4 linked regions of the Homo sapiens genome follow. The protein of the gene in region 4 interacts with the protein of the main gene of each other region in a biochemical or structural test. Each region holds a gene or a part of one and is shown on either strand. Other genes may lie near its edges.

Region 1 (3,500 bases), on a different chromosome or scaffold from region 4:
GCGCCTGTAGTCCCAGCTACACAGGAGGCTGAAGTGGGAAGAACACCTGAGCCTGAGCCTGGGGAGGTCGAGGCTACAGATCACGCCGCCACACTCCAGCCTGGGCAAGAGAGAGAGATCCTGTCTCAAAATAAAAAGGGAATGATCTTCACGATCCATCCCAAAACATATTGGAGATAACCCTACCTTTAGCTAACTATCCCCTGAAAAACAAGAGAGTATTTACTAAGTAGAACACATTGTTGGATAGCCATTCCAAATTGCTCTAACTTTGCCAAGCTTAAATGGCAAGGAAGAAACCAATTCCTGGCTCCCCTATTTGATAACTTACATACTTCTGCAGGCTCTTAAGCCAAAATGAGCCAAAATCTTAAAGAGAGTTAAGACTGACATAGACATTAGCAAACATATCACCTTTTTTTCCTATTAACATTGTTGTTCCCCATAAAGGTCTATTCAGCATTTTTTTTTTAGTAGCCCTCTGTAGATATCAAGAAATGCTCATAAATTTAGCCTGTAGTTCCTCAGGCTCAATGGCTTGTGAGAAAAGAAAAAAAAAAAAAAAGTTGGAAATACTGTCTTCTCTTCCACAATGCCCACGAAGCTAGGCAAAGGCAATGATTCTGCATTTAATCACTAGATGAATAAGAAACAGACTTGAATTTAGAAGAAAGATAAAGGACCGCAAGAACATTCAGTAAAGAGTACTGCCTCTATTTCTTTGCAAAGCAGCTCTCAGGATCTGCCAATGAACCTCATTTTGACATGGAACGCCCCATCCACTCTAATCCGGGGCATATCCCTCAAGACACAGTCAGTCAACCGGAACTCTGCCAACTTTTGCTTGGGAGTTGTGTGAAGAATAGTAGCAACAAGAGCCTACTTTGAGAAGGAGATCAACAATCACACTCAAGAAGAAAAGAAGTTATTTGGCAAAGGGATGCATGTTGCCAAAATGTTAGTCACAGCTTCAAGGGCCCAGTTTGTGTCTCTACAACTATTCTTTGCTTTGACAGAGGCCATTATCTGACCCAGGAAACAGCTCAGCTTCTGTCACCCTCCCCATCTGAAGCAGTGAAGAATCCTTTCAATTTGGTAGTATCAAACTGTGACACAGACAAGATGTCCACCAGAGACTAAAAGGGGAGAAAAAATGTGTAATTTGCCACTTTCTACATAGGACTGGCTCAAGCAGAGCAACGGAAAACTGTGACAGGATAGGAAAAATGGAAAATCATTATGTTAAAGAAGCAGGCTGGGCCGGGCGCGGTGGCTCACGCCCGTAATTTCAGCACTTTGGGAGGCCGAGGCGGGTGGATCACAAGGTCAGGAGATCAAGACATCCTCGCTAACAAGTTGAAACCCCGTCTCTACTACAAAAAAAAAAAAAAAAAAAATACAAAAAATCAGCCGGGCGTGGTGGCAGGCGCCTGTAGTCCAGCTCCTCAGGAGGCTGAGGCAGGAGAATGGCGTGAACCTGGGAGGCGGAGCTTGCAGTGAGCCGAGATTGCGCCACTGCACTCCAGCCTGGGGGACAAAGTGAGACTCCGTCTCAAAAAAAAAAAAAAAAAAGAAAAGAAAAGAAAAAAAAAATAAGCAGGCTGTACCAAAAGTCCGCCCAGGAGCACCGAGCCTCCATATGTTATCTCAAAATCCCCTTAAAAAACAAACCAAAAAGGTACACTGTAGGTTGCAATAGCATAATATTAAGCAGGTTTTTACTCCCAAATAAGTACATATATTTTGTAGCCTGCAACTCTTCCTGGGGTTGTAAGAAGACTATGTTTGCTGAAGCTGCCTGAACCAAGAGCCCATGAATTTCACAGTTATTTCAGAGCAGGAAAACAGACTAACATATACCAGGTTACTCTCCCAATCAGAGAACACAAGTAAAGAAAGAACATTTAATAATTTTCTCGGGCCGGGCGCGGTGGCTCACGCCTGTAATCCCAGCACTTTGGGAGGCCGAGACTGGCAGATCACAAGGTCAGAAGTTCGAGACCAGCCTGACCAACACAGTGAAACCTCGTCTCTACAAAAATACAAAAATTAGCCAGGCGTGATGGCACCCAGCTACTCAGGAGGCTGAGGCAGGAGAATCGCTTGAACCTGGGAGGTGGAGGTTGCAGTGAGCAGAGATCATGCCATTGCACTCCAGCCTGGGCAACTGAGCGAGACTCCGTCTCAAAAAAAAAAAAAAAAAACCCAAAAAAAAATTTTCTCTTCAACAGAACAAGACTTCTGTCTCTTGCCTCTTGCCTTTTTTTTTTCCTAAAAACACCTAGTGAGTCTAGAATCTCTTCCCTTCGTAAAAGCCATCAGTAAAACCTGAAAACTCCAATGTTCACACCTCTCCTGCATTTCACCTTGGTGCTATCACATAACTTATCAGTACCAGCTAGGGTAAACACTACTCTAGTATCAAGTGTGAGGTGGAATTAGTAAATGACCAGCCTGGCCAACATGGCAAAACCCTGTCTCTACTAAAAATACAAAAATTAGCCAGGTGGCACATGCCTGTAATCCCAGCTACTTGGGAGGCTGAGCCAGGAGAATTGCTTGAACCCAGGAGACAGAGGTTGCAGTGAGCCAAGATTGTGCCATTGCACTCCAGCCTGGGCAATACAGCAAGACTCTGTCTCAAAATAAATAAATAAACAAATAAAAAAACAAACACTACATTCTACTAGTCTTCATCAATTGACTTCATTCATCTCCACCTTCCCCAACTCTTAACTTCCCTATCTTCATCTTGATGGCAACCAATGTAACACAATATGAAATTTTTACTTTTAAAAGTTGACATTAATAAGAGTTAAAAAACTAAACATGCGGCCAGGTGTGGTAGCTCATGCCTGTAATCTCAACACTTTGGGAGGCCGAGGTGGGTGGATCACCTGAAGTCAGGAGTTCGAGACCAGCCTGACCAACATGGTGAAACCCCATCTCTACTAAAATACAAAAAATTAGCTGGGCGTGGTGGTGCATGCCTATAGTACCAGTTACTTGGGGGACTGAGGCAGGAGAAGCGCTTGAATCCGGCAGGCGGAGGTTGCAGTGAGCCAAGACTGCGCCATTCCACTCCAGCCTGGGCAGCAGGAGCGAAACTCTGTCTCAAAAAAAAAAAAAAAAAAAAAAAAAAAAAAAAACTGAATATGCATCAAATCAAAACCAGTTCTTCCCTGGCTGGCACGCAGACACACACACACACACACAAACACACACACACATGAGCAAGGCTAAGAGGAAGAAACAGAAAAACATGTTTCCTTTTGTTGTTGTTGTTGTTGTTGTTGAGGTGGAGTTTCGCTCTTGTTGCCCAGGCTGGAGTGCAATGGCGCGATCTCAGCTCACTGCAATCTCAGGTGATCCACCACCTTGGCCTCCCAAAGCGTTGGGATTATAGGCATGAGCCAGCGCGCCCAGCCTTGTTTTCCTTTAAGAGACAGGTCGGCCAGGCGCGGTGGCTCACACCTGTAATCCCAGCACTTTGGGAGGCC
Region 2 (3,500 bases), on a different chromosome or scaffold from region 4:
CATATTTTGTCAGGCCACAGTTTTAAAGGTCTCGTTCCATTTAATCATGTATGAGAATCAGAGTCGTGGTATTTTATGTCTTGTCCTGTGGAACAGTATGTTATATTCCAAGAGCACTTAGAGTTTATTTTTTTAGACAGAGTCTCACTCTTTCTTCTAGTCTGGAGTGCAGTGGCATGGTCTTGGCTTACTGCAGCTTTCACCTCCCGGGTTCAGGTGATCCTCCTGCCTCAGCCTCCCAAGTAGCTGGGACTACAGGCACACGCCACCACGCCCAGCTAATTTTTTAAATTTTTTGTAGAGACGGGATTTTGCCCTGTTGGCCAGGCTGGGAGCACTTAGAATTTTATCATGATTATGTTTCAGGTATATTTATAAGTGTGGGCGGCAAACCACCCAGGTGCCAAGGCAAGAGACCGAGGACACGAGCTGTTCCAATATAATAAAATATAAAATAAGAATAGTTATACCAGATATAGATCTTAGATATGATTATATATGAATATCATTAATCATTAGTTTGTAGCAATTACTCTTTATTCCAATATCATAATAATCCTCACTCTATAATCATAACCTAGGAAAAACCAGGCCATACAGAGATAGGAGCTGAGGGGACATAGTGAGAAGTGACCAGAAGACAAGAGTGCGAGCCTTCTGTTATGCCCAGACAGGGCCACCAAAGGGCTCCTTGGTCTAGTGGTAACGCCAGCGTCTGGGAAGACGCCCGTTGCCAGGCGGACCGAGGTCTAGCAGTAGCGTAAGTGTCAAAGGAAAACACCCACTATTTAGCAGACCGGGAAAGGGAGTCTGCTTTTCCCCTGGGGAGTTTAGAGAAGACTGCTCCTCCACCTCTTGTGGAGGGCCTGACATCAGTCAGGCTTGCCTGCAATTATCCAGAGGCCTAACCGTCTCCCTATGGTGCTGTGCTTCAGTGGTCACGCTCCTAGTCTGCCTTCATGTTCCATCCTGTACACCTGGCTCTGCCTTCTAGATAGCAGTAGTAAATTAGTGAAAGTACTAAAAGTCTCTAATATGCAGAAACAATGGCGTAAGCTGTCTTTCTCTCTGTCTCCTCTCCCTCTCTGCCTCGGCTGCCAGGCGGGGAAGGGCCCCCTCTCCAGTGGACACGTAACCCACGTGACCTTACCTATCATTGGAGATGACTCACACTCTTTACCCTGCCCCTTGTGTTTTGTTTCCAATAAATAACAGTGCAGCCAGACATTCAGGGCCACTACTGGTCTCCGCGTCTTGGTGGTAGTGGTCCCCCGTGCCCAGCTGTCTTTTTTTTTTAAATCTCTGTGTCTCGTGTCTTTATTTCTGCACTCTCTCGTCGCTGCATACAGGGAGAAGCCCACCGACCCTGTGGGGCTGGTCGCTACATATAAGTACTCGTCCTTGTATGAATTAATGTTTTTACTTATTGATGCTCTGAGTCTGGGAAAATGGCAAGTGTTAAGACTCAGCTTTAAAAAGTTTTGTCACTTTTTAGTCTTTTATGCAAACCTCAGATCGAAGAAGACAGCATAAACACTTTTCACTCAGTAAGTTTTCCCAGTTAATGTATATTCACATCTTTAAAATGCAGCATTCCAAAATATGCCCGGTGCTATCCGCCCAGCTGCTCCTAGACCACCATTTAGTACTATGAGACCAGCTTCTTCACAGGTTCCACGAGTCATGTCAACACAGCGTGTTGGTGAGTCTTAATCCTTCCTTTAAAAATTGATCACCAATTTGAAAGAGCAAGATAAAAATACAAAATGTTCTTATTTTTTAGCTAACACATCAACACAGACAATGGGTCCACGTCCTGCAGCTGCAGCCGCTGCAGCTACTCCTGCTGTCCGCACCGTTCCACAGTATAAATATGCTGCAGGAGTTCGCAATCCTCAGCAACATCTTAATGCACAGCCACAAGTTACAATGCAACAGGTATGGATTTAATGATTTCTTAATAAAAATCACATTTCTTGGGTGAAATCAAAGGTGTGAAGACAGCTGGGCACAGTGGCTCACACCTATAACCCCAGCACTTTGGGAGGTTGAGGCAGGCAGATTGCTTGAGACCAGGAGTTTGGGACCAGCCTGGGCAACATACAGGACCCTGTCTCCACAAAGAAAACTAGCTGGGTGTGGTGGCATAAGCCTGTAGTCCTAGCTGCTAGGAAGGCTGAGGCAGGAGGATTGCTCGAGCCCAGGAGTTTAAGGCTGCAGCAAGCTGTAATCCCTGCTGGGTGACAGCAAGACTCTGTCTCAAAAGAAAAAATGTGAAGACAGCTGCATGATAGATTCTTGAGAGCTTAGCCTATCTGGAACATTCTGCTAATATGATAGTATGTAAAATGTCTTACGCTTTTGGAATTGGACAAGCAGCGAGAAATTCACATCCTAAATCACCACGCCTGGTCTGAAACAACTATTACAAGTAGCTATGGGCCAGGCGTGGTGGCTCACACCTCTATGTAATCCCAGCACTTCAGGAGGCCAAGGCAGGTGGATCACTTGAGGTCAGGAGTTTGAGACCAGCCTGGTCAACAGGGTGAAACCCCAGCTCTAAAAATATAAAGATTAGCCAGGCTTGGTGGCACATGCCTGTAATCCCAGCTACTGGGGAGGCTGAGGCAGGAAAGTTGCTTGAATCCGGAGGCGGAGGTTGCAGCGAGCCAAGATTGTGCCGTTGCATTCCAGCCTGGGCGACAAAGTGAGACTCCATCTCAAAAAGAAAAAAAATGTATCTGTGATACATAGTATATAATAACTACTTTGGCTTCTTTCTAATTCGCTCACTCAACTTCTCCACCTCATGTTTCGATGGAAGTCTACCACTTCAGCAGATGTCCATTGATGACTATTTGTATTTGCCATCTTTTTCTGTGCTTTAAACTTAAGAGTTCTCATTTTCTGTCTAGCCTGCTGTTCATGTACAAGGTCAGGAACCTTTGACTGCTTCCATGTTGGCATCTGCCCCTCCTCAAGAGCAAAAGCAAATGTTGGGTGAGTACTTCTGTCCCACCTTGTCAGTTCAGAAAGACTAGAAAATATAGGAATCACTTAGGCACTAGGTCAATCAATTGACAGCTAGGGCAGTGGAATTGATCTGAATTGGCATGAATGATTATGATAGTACAGTTGGTCTGCCTAATTAAAACCACTGGAAAGCCAATAAGAAAATGTATTGTTAGTAATAAATAGGGTAGTAGGGCATTACTCACCATGGGCCCTCACTACATTTTTGAGAGAAGGAATTTGAAGCAAATGAGAAGAAAACTTGTGACTTTGCCTGAACACCGATTTAACAACCTAATGGTAACATTGCTTAATTGGCAAGCTGATAATATCAAGAGTTAATTGCCTTGTGGCAGATTTTATTCTGTCTTCCCATGAAGACATAATGAAATTGTGGATTATGGGTTATTATATACGTGAGACAGAAGTATGGTTCTTAAACCCCAGTTTAATGTGGTAATTCAATGCAGTTAAAAACTTTTTTTTAT
Region 3 (3,500 bases), on a different chromosome or scaffold from region 4:
AAATGTTATATTTGTATATAACCTACACACATCCTTCCGTATAGTTTAAATCATCTCTGCATCACTTACTTATAATACCTAATACTATGTAAATGCTATGTAAATAGTTGTTACATTGTATTGCTCAGGGAATAATGGCAAAAGTCTGTGTGTGTTCAGTACAGACACAACCATTCATTATTTCCCCCCCGAATCTTTTCAATCTGAGTTTGGATGAATACAGATTCTGAACCCACGGATACAGAGGGCTGACTTGATTGTGCAGTTAGAAGTTTCAGGGTCTTTTCTGCTCACATTGTGTGATCTCCACCCTCTATTCCTGGGGTGGAGGACCTACTGAGAATCCCTAGAAAGTTCTACCTACCAGCTGAGTTGTCTGCCCTGTATATGATTTCGTTCTTGCATGCAACGTATGACTGGTAGACAATGAATACTACTAGAAAGAGAGAAAATGGGGGCTGGGTGCTGTGGCTCATGTCTATAATCCCTGGCATGAGCCATTGGTTGAGACCAGGAGCTCAAGACCAGCTGGCCAATGTGGCAAAACCCTGTATCTACTAAAAATACAAAAATTAGCTGGGTATGGTGGTGCATGTCTGTAATCCCAGCTATTCAGGGGCTGAGGCACGAGAATTGCTTGAATTCCGGAGGTGGAGGTTGCAGTGAGCAGAGATCGGGCCACTGCACTCCAGCCTGGGCAACAGAGCGAGACTCCGTGTCAAAAAAAAAAAAAAAGAGAGAGGAAAAGGGCAGTTTGGCCTCAGTGACCACAGCCATCCTAAAAGCTGTTGCTGATTATTCTAGGTGAAGCTGTTCATTTGGCTAGGGACTTTGCCTATGTCTGTGAAGCCGAATTTCCTAGTAAACCAGTGGCAGAATATTTAACCAGACCTCATCTTGGAGGACGAAATGAGATGGCAGCTAGGAAGAACATGCTATTGGCGGCCCAGTAAGTATCTGAACTTGAATTTGATGATGACTCAATGCTCTAGACCTTGAGGTTGAGAAGATTCCCCCTCCACAGTCCCGATGGCTCAACAAAGAAATATTCTTGAAATAAATTAGGGTGGAGCAAAAGAAAATGGCAAGGGAGCTTCTTTTACAAAGTCAAATACATTAACTTTTTGTATGATTTAGAAGAGTGCATGACTCAGCCATGAGTATTTTTGAGCTGCTTAGTTATTCAACCCAAAGTAGTTGAGCTGCCCTTTCATTATTGTGTTAGCATATCTTACAAAAATGTGTTGAAAACCCGATTTGTTTTGTCACAACCAGTAAAGAGAGATTGTGTGCCTTCTACCTCCTGATAGCAAGACTTTTGTCTTTCAAATGTAAAGATCAGGGTGGATTTGTGGGCAAATTAACTGTCTCCAAAACGACTTAATGCAGCTGTGGGTTTTCTCATAGAAACCAACAGTAAGTTGATTTGAAAATGATGGTAAATGAAGCAGAACTAGTCGAGCCAGGAAATGGGGTAAAAGAGAGCGCAGTGAACCAGGCTGTGTCAGGAGTCAGAATTTCAGGGGGATGCTTCCTTCTCCCGGTTCCTCACGGAATTTGTTTATTGGAACCAACTTGTACCAAGGTAAACTGTCCCTTAAGCTCATGGGTTGGAATCCAGGCCCCATTACTTTTACCAGTCCTGGTGACCTTGGCCAGTTAGCTGGGGTTAAGTTAATCCTGTTGTCTTTTCTAATTGCAGTGAGGATTAAATAAGATAGTGCTTTAAAACAGCTTAACTCAGAGCCTGGCGCAGAATAGTTGCTAAGCGCAGCAGTTGGCTATTAGTATTAAATTCTCCTTCCTCGGGTTGAAGCAGTTGTGCTTGCCTCCCGGGCGCCAGCCTCAGTGTAGTTGGTTCTGTGCTCTTGACCTGTAAGGAGCTAGATGGAACTCATCGAGTCAACTGACTGTCTTCACAGGCAACTGTGTAAAGAATTCACAGAACTTCTCAGCCAAGACCGGACACCCCATGGGACCAGCAGGCTCGCCCCAGTCTTGGAGACGAACATACAGAACTGCTTGTCTCATTTCAGCCTGATTACCCACGGGTTTGGCAGCCAGGCCATCTGTGCCGCGGTGTCTGCCCTGCAGAACTACATCAAAGAAGCCCTGATTGTCATAGACAAATCCTACATGAACCCTGGAGACCAGAGTCCAGCTGATTCTAACAAAACCCTGGAGAAAATGGAGAAACACAGGAAATAAAATTGGAACGAAGAAAGGTTAGGAGAGTAGGGAAGGAACAGGACTGCAAAAATCCTTCTCCACCGCACAGACTGGGAACCCCTCCTGGCCTGGGGGAAGAGTTTGTTACCTACCTTACTATTTAAAGAGCCTTCACTGGTTCTGCATCACCCGCCCCTGGACTTCTTAGTTGTTTCTCTAGCGCTGAGCTATCTCCTAACTTTGGACCTATTATCAGAAGGTGACAAGTACTGGCTCTTTATTCATTAAGCTTTTTTTTTTTGAACCCCATTCTTTCCTTCTCTGAAAGTGGTGCTATAAGTTTTAGAATCTTTTAAATACATTCCCTGGGCCAACAGACCCACACACTTAGCCATTGAAATGTCAAATTGATGTGCCCTAGATCAACAGATCAACAATACCTTTTTTTTCAGTGTTAAGGTAATGGTTGGTTTTTGTGTCCGCTAAATATTTACCTTGAAAAAAAGAAAAGTGTGTATCTAGCTTCTTCAGAGATCAAGTCCTCTGGTAGGAGGCAAAGGTTCTATCTGCTTAGCAACTAGTTAATAAGTGGTATCTGACACACTCTAAACCCCGTGTTCAAACGGGGGCCTTCTGGTTTTAGGAAACTTGTAGAAACGAAGCCTGCTGATTGATTTTTTTCTCCTTTTTTTTTTTTTTTTTTTTTAACTTTGAAAGTTAACTCTTCAAATGGGAGACTCTTTGAAATGACATGTTCCTTTAAGGTACTGAAGCTTTATTTGCATATTTATTTCAGATGTTTCGAGTAAACTTGAAAAGGGTAGGCACGAAGCAATTTGTTGCTGCTTGTCACCCCCAAGTCCCCGTGGAGGTTCTGTATTTTAAGAAACAGTGCGTTGAGTGTACAGATTTTATTTATGCGTAATTTAATGGGGTCTGTAAATACTGGTGCACTTCTTACGACTTTTTTGAGACATGGGATCCAATTTTAATATTAACTTTTAATGGTGATGGGGTAATCTATAACACATCATAAGGTTTTATTCATATATATACAGGGTATTAAGAATTAAGAGGATGCTGGGCTCTGTTCTTGGCTTGGAAGATTCTATTTAATTGAAACTCTCTGTTCAGAAAGCAATAACTTTGTCTCGTTCCTGTTGGGCTGAACCCTAAGGTGAGTGTGCAGTACAGTGTGTGTGGGTGAAATGGAGATTTGGAATTGAACTCTCTGCCTGTAAATGTTCCCCAAATAATTGTTGTGTGTATGATACGTGTATAATAAAAGTATTCTTGTTAGAATCTGAAAGTCTGGCTATAGGTTTTTGTTT
Region 4 (3,500 bases):
TTGATGTGTGCCTATGAGATAAAGACTGCTTTTAATGGCAGGCAAGGAAAATGCAAGTCCATCTCTTAACTTTCTTGAAGAAGCTTGAGACACAGCTCTGCAAGGGGCTGGAAGGTTTCATGTTATTGCCAATGCTTGGTTTATCTGATTGCTGTTGCCATTCATTTTGAAGGAGAAGCAGGAGTTGGTATACCAATATTCCCACTGTGCCAGCAGAGAGCGGGTTATCCTTACTAGAGAGCCAGAGAGTCAGAACGGTTTTTTTTTGTTTTTTTTTTTTTTTTTTGAGATGGAGTTTCACAATTGTTGCCCAGGCTGGAGTGCACGATCTCAGCTCACCGCAGCCTCTGCCTGCCGGGTTGAAGCAATTCTCCTGCCTCAGCTTCCCGAGTAGCTGGGATTACAGGCATGTGCCACCACGCCAGGCTAATTTTGTATTTTTAGTAGAGACAGGGTTTCTCCATGTTGTTCAGGCTGGTCGCGAACTCCTGACCTCAGGTAATCCGCCTGCCTTGCCCTCCTGAAGTACTGGGATTACAGACATGAGCCACCGCGCCCGGCCACAGAGCTGCTTTTTTTTGCAAGTGATATTGGATGGTGGTTGATGTACAAAGTAGGAGTTTGTCCTTGCTACTGATACCGTAGCTGGTACAAGGTTTTAATCGTTCTCCAAGCACTGTCACAGGTGTCATGTGTCTCGCCTTTTCAGCAGCTCTGTGAGGTGGCAGTAGCCCTGAGGAGACTGGCTGGACTCAGCTAGCATGGGCTGCTCAGGTCTTCAGCGTGCTGAGTGAGGCATTCCTGCACTATGACAGAGACCCAGCTGCCAAGACTTTGTCAAACAGACCAGAAGCCAGCAGTTCATGAAAAGACCTTGCTTGCAAGTTGTAGAATTTTTTAGAAAATTCGTGCTCTCTGTATTTATTTTCTGTAAAATAATTGATAGGGAAAGAATGTTCACATCTTATCATCTAGATGTTGCTGATTAAATAATATAACTTTCTGGGTTGGCATGAGTAGGTGAACTTTTAGGAAACGCAGCCTACCCTTCGAATACCTCTTGTAGCACCTGGCTGTTTCCCTTTTGAAATAATTGTATGTTTTCCTGGATACCTTATTACCTGGTGACACGTGTTTCTAGTTATTGACCTATGTTTTTAATTATAACTTTGGGTGGTGGTCTGAAATGAAATGTTAAGTTTGACGCAAAAATAGGACTAGTTTGTGTAACTGATTTGTTCAGAATAACAGCTTACATTTCTCAGAGCTTTTTGTATGCCAAGTGCTATGCGAAACCCTGGATGTACAATATTCTTATAGTAGCCCCTGAGACCAGTGCTAGGATTATTTCCATTTTGCAGATGAGGGGATGGAGATTAAGGAGTGGGGTCACTTGACCAAAGGTGCACAGCGCACAGCTAGATGCCCTATGGGAAGGTCTTACTGCATCTCTTAACTACCTCTTGGGACCAGTTAGGAACCAGTGCTTAATGAAACACTTTGAAGTTACATCTGTGGAAAGAATAAACATTTTAGCTGGGCAAGGTGGCACGGGCTTCTAGTCCCAGCCACTCAAGAGGCTGAAATAGGAGGGTTACTTGAGTCCAGGAGTTCCAGTCCAGCCTGGGCAACATAGTGAGACCCTGATTCTTTAAAAAGAAACACAAATAAATAAACATTTTAAGAGATTATATAAATTAGATATTATGAATTTTGTCCCTACATCGTGGAATAAAACCAAAACAAATACACAGCAAAATGCCTCTAGATTTATTTATTTATTTATTTATTTTTGAGACAGAGTCTTGCTCTGTCGCCAGGCTGGAGTGCAGCGGCGTGATCTCGGCTCACTGCAACTTCTGCTTCCCTGGCTCAAGCGATTCTCCTGCCTCAGCCTCCCGAGTAGCTGGGACTACAGGCACGTGCCACTGTCCCCAGCTAATTTTGTATTTTTGGTAGAGACAGGGTTTCACCATGTTGGCCAGGATGGTCTCCATCTCCTGACCTTGTGATCTGCTCCCCTAGGGCTCCCAAAGTGCTGGGATTACAGGTGTGAGCCACCGCTCCCGACGGCCTCTAGATATTTTGAGTGATTCAGCAAACCTCCTAAAGTTGACCCCGTAGCTGGGGTCACAGTCCTCTTTCTCCTTCTTCCCCCTACTTCCTTCTTATATCTGGCTATCTGGGAGAGAAAAAATTTAATACAATTGATTACTTTTTAGAAGAGTTAATTTTTACTTATTACTGTGGATTTTTTGTTTTTTAACAGTCACACCGAGGAGAAGACTCAGTGGGAACATCCAAAAACTGGAAAAAGAAAACGAGTGGCAGGAGGTTTGTATGTTGTTGTCTAAGGATCTTGGATGGAAGCATTAAGTAGATGAGGAAATGTCACTGGCAGAGAGGTGACAGGTTATTGTGTGTTTAGGGAGGGCTCTCTGGTAGAGAACCAGACTCCCACTCTGAGGAGCTTATGGGATTTGGCAGAAGAAGATGATGAGATCATAGGGTGGAGTGAGGATGATTTCTTACTGGTCTTAAAGTACCAAAATGGCCAGATGTGGTGGCTCATGCCTGTAATCCCAGCACTTCGGGAGGCCGAGGCGGATGGATCACCTGAGGTCAGGAGTTTGAGACTAGCCTGGCCAACATGTTGAAAGCGCATCTCTTCTAAAAATACAAAAATTAGCTGGGCATGGTTGCATGCGCCTGTAATTCCAGCTACTTTGGAGGCTGAGGCACGAGAAGTGCTCAAACCCAGGAGCTGGAGGTTGCAGTGAGCCAAGATCACACCACTGCGCTCCAGCCTCGGTGACAGAGTGAGATGCTGTCTGAAAAATAGCGACAACAACAACAACAAAAACCAGAAAATAATTGAGGCCTTTGATTCACAGTTTATGATGTTTTCCTATCGTTGCAGTGTTTATAAAATTGTTCTTGGCTATACTATGGAATTAAATATATAAGTATTTGGAAATTTCGTAAAGATTACCATGACTTCTAGGTGATTCTGAGATAATGTATGATCCACGGAATAGAAGTATAAGAAAGGGACAGGCACGGTGGCTTGTGCTTGTGATCCCAGCCCTTTGGGAGGCAGAGGTGGGAGGATCACTTGTGCCTGGGAATTCGAGGTGAGCCTAGGCAACATAGTGAGACCCCATCTCAAAAAAAAATATGAGAAGGTTCCTGCCCTTAAGAGGTTTAGGATCCAGCTGAAGAATCAACATGTGCACATGAAAAAAAATGGCCGTGCCCTCTAATGTCATATGAGGTCAGCGTATGAATGACGTTGGGTGCCTGCCCTGCATATACATATGTTCTTTGAGCTCATTCAAGGGAGAATTCCCATGGATTGGCACAACCAGTATGGTTTATAGAGCGATCAGGAATAAAATAGGTTTTCTTCAAAACAAGAGGCAAAAATGTGGAGCCCAGGGTGGGATCAGGGGCCTTCTGCAGCTGTCGCAGTTGGAACATGTGACGAAAGCCAGTTGATG

What was found. The genes of interacting proteins can lie anywhere in the genome.
Region 1: the proteins of WWOX (region 4) and WIPF2 form a complex in vitro, tested with the Homo sapiens proteins (one study listed by BioGRID).
Region 2: the proteins of WWOX (region 4) and PABPC1 form a complex in vitro, tested with the Homo sapiens proteins (one study listed by BioGRID).
Region 3: the proteins of WWOX (region 4) and TFAP2C form a complex in vitro, tested with the Homo sapiens proteins (one study listed by BioGRID).

The regions. Positions count from the first base shown.
Region 1 is NC_000017.11:40,222,304-40,225,803, reverse strand, and holds part of WIPF2 (WAS/WASL-interacting protein family member 2), read right to left. Parts: intron 1-3,500. UniProt on the Homo sapiens protein: Plays an active role in the formation of cell surface protrusions downstream of activated PDGFB receptors. Plays an important role in actin-microspike formation through cooperation with WASL.
Region 2 is NC_000008.11:100,705,089-100,708,588, reverse strand, and holds part of PABPC1 (polyadenylate-binding protein 1), read left to right. Parts: intron 1-1,591; coding exon 1,592-1,702; intron 1,703-1,783; coding exon 1,784-1,938; intron 1,939-2,915; coding exon 2,916-3,000; intron 3,001-3,500. UniProt on the Homo sapiens protein: Binds the poly(A) tail of mRNA, including that of its own transcript, and regulates processes of mRNA metabolism such as pre-mRNA splicing and mRNA stability.
Region 3 is NC_000020.11:56,635,806-56,639,305, forward strand, and holds the end of TFAP2C (transcription factor AP-2 gamma), read left to right. Parts: intron 1-804; coding exon 805-949; intron 950-1,922; coding exon 1,923-2,208; 3' UTR 2,209-3,478; downstream 3,479-3,500. UniProt on the Homo sapiens protein: Sequence-specific DNA-binding transcription factor that interacts with cellular enhancer elements to regulate transcription of selected genes, and which plays a key role in early embryonic development.
Region 4 is NC_000016.10:78,106,154-78,109,653, forward strand, and holds part of WWOX (WW domain-containing oxidoreductase), read left to right. Parts: intron 1-2,269; coding exon 2,270-2,334; intron 2,335-3,500. UniProt on the Homo sapiens protein: Putative oxidoreductase. Acts as a tumor suppressor and plays a role in apoptosis. Required for normal bone development. May function synergistically with p53/TP53 to control genotoxic stress-induced cell death.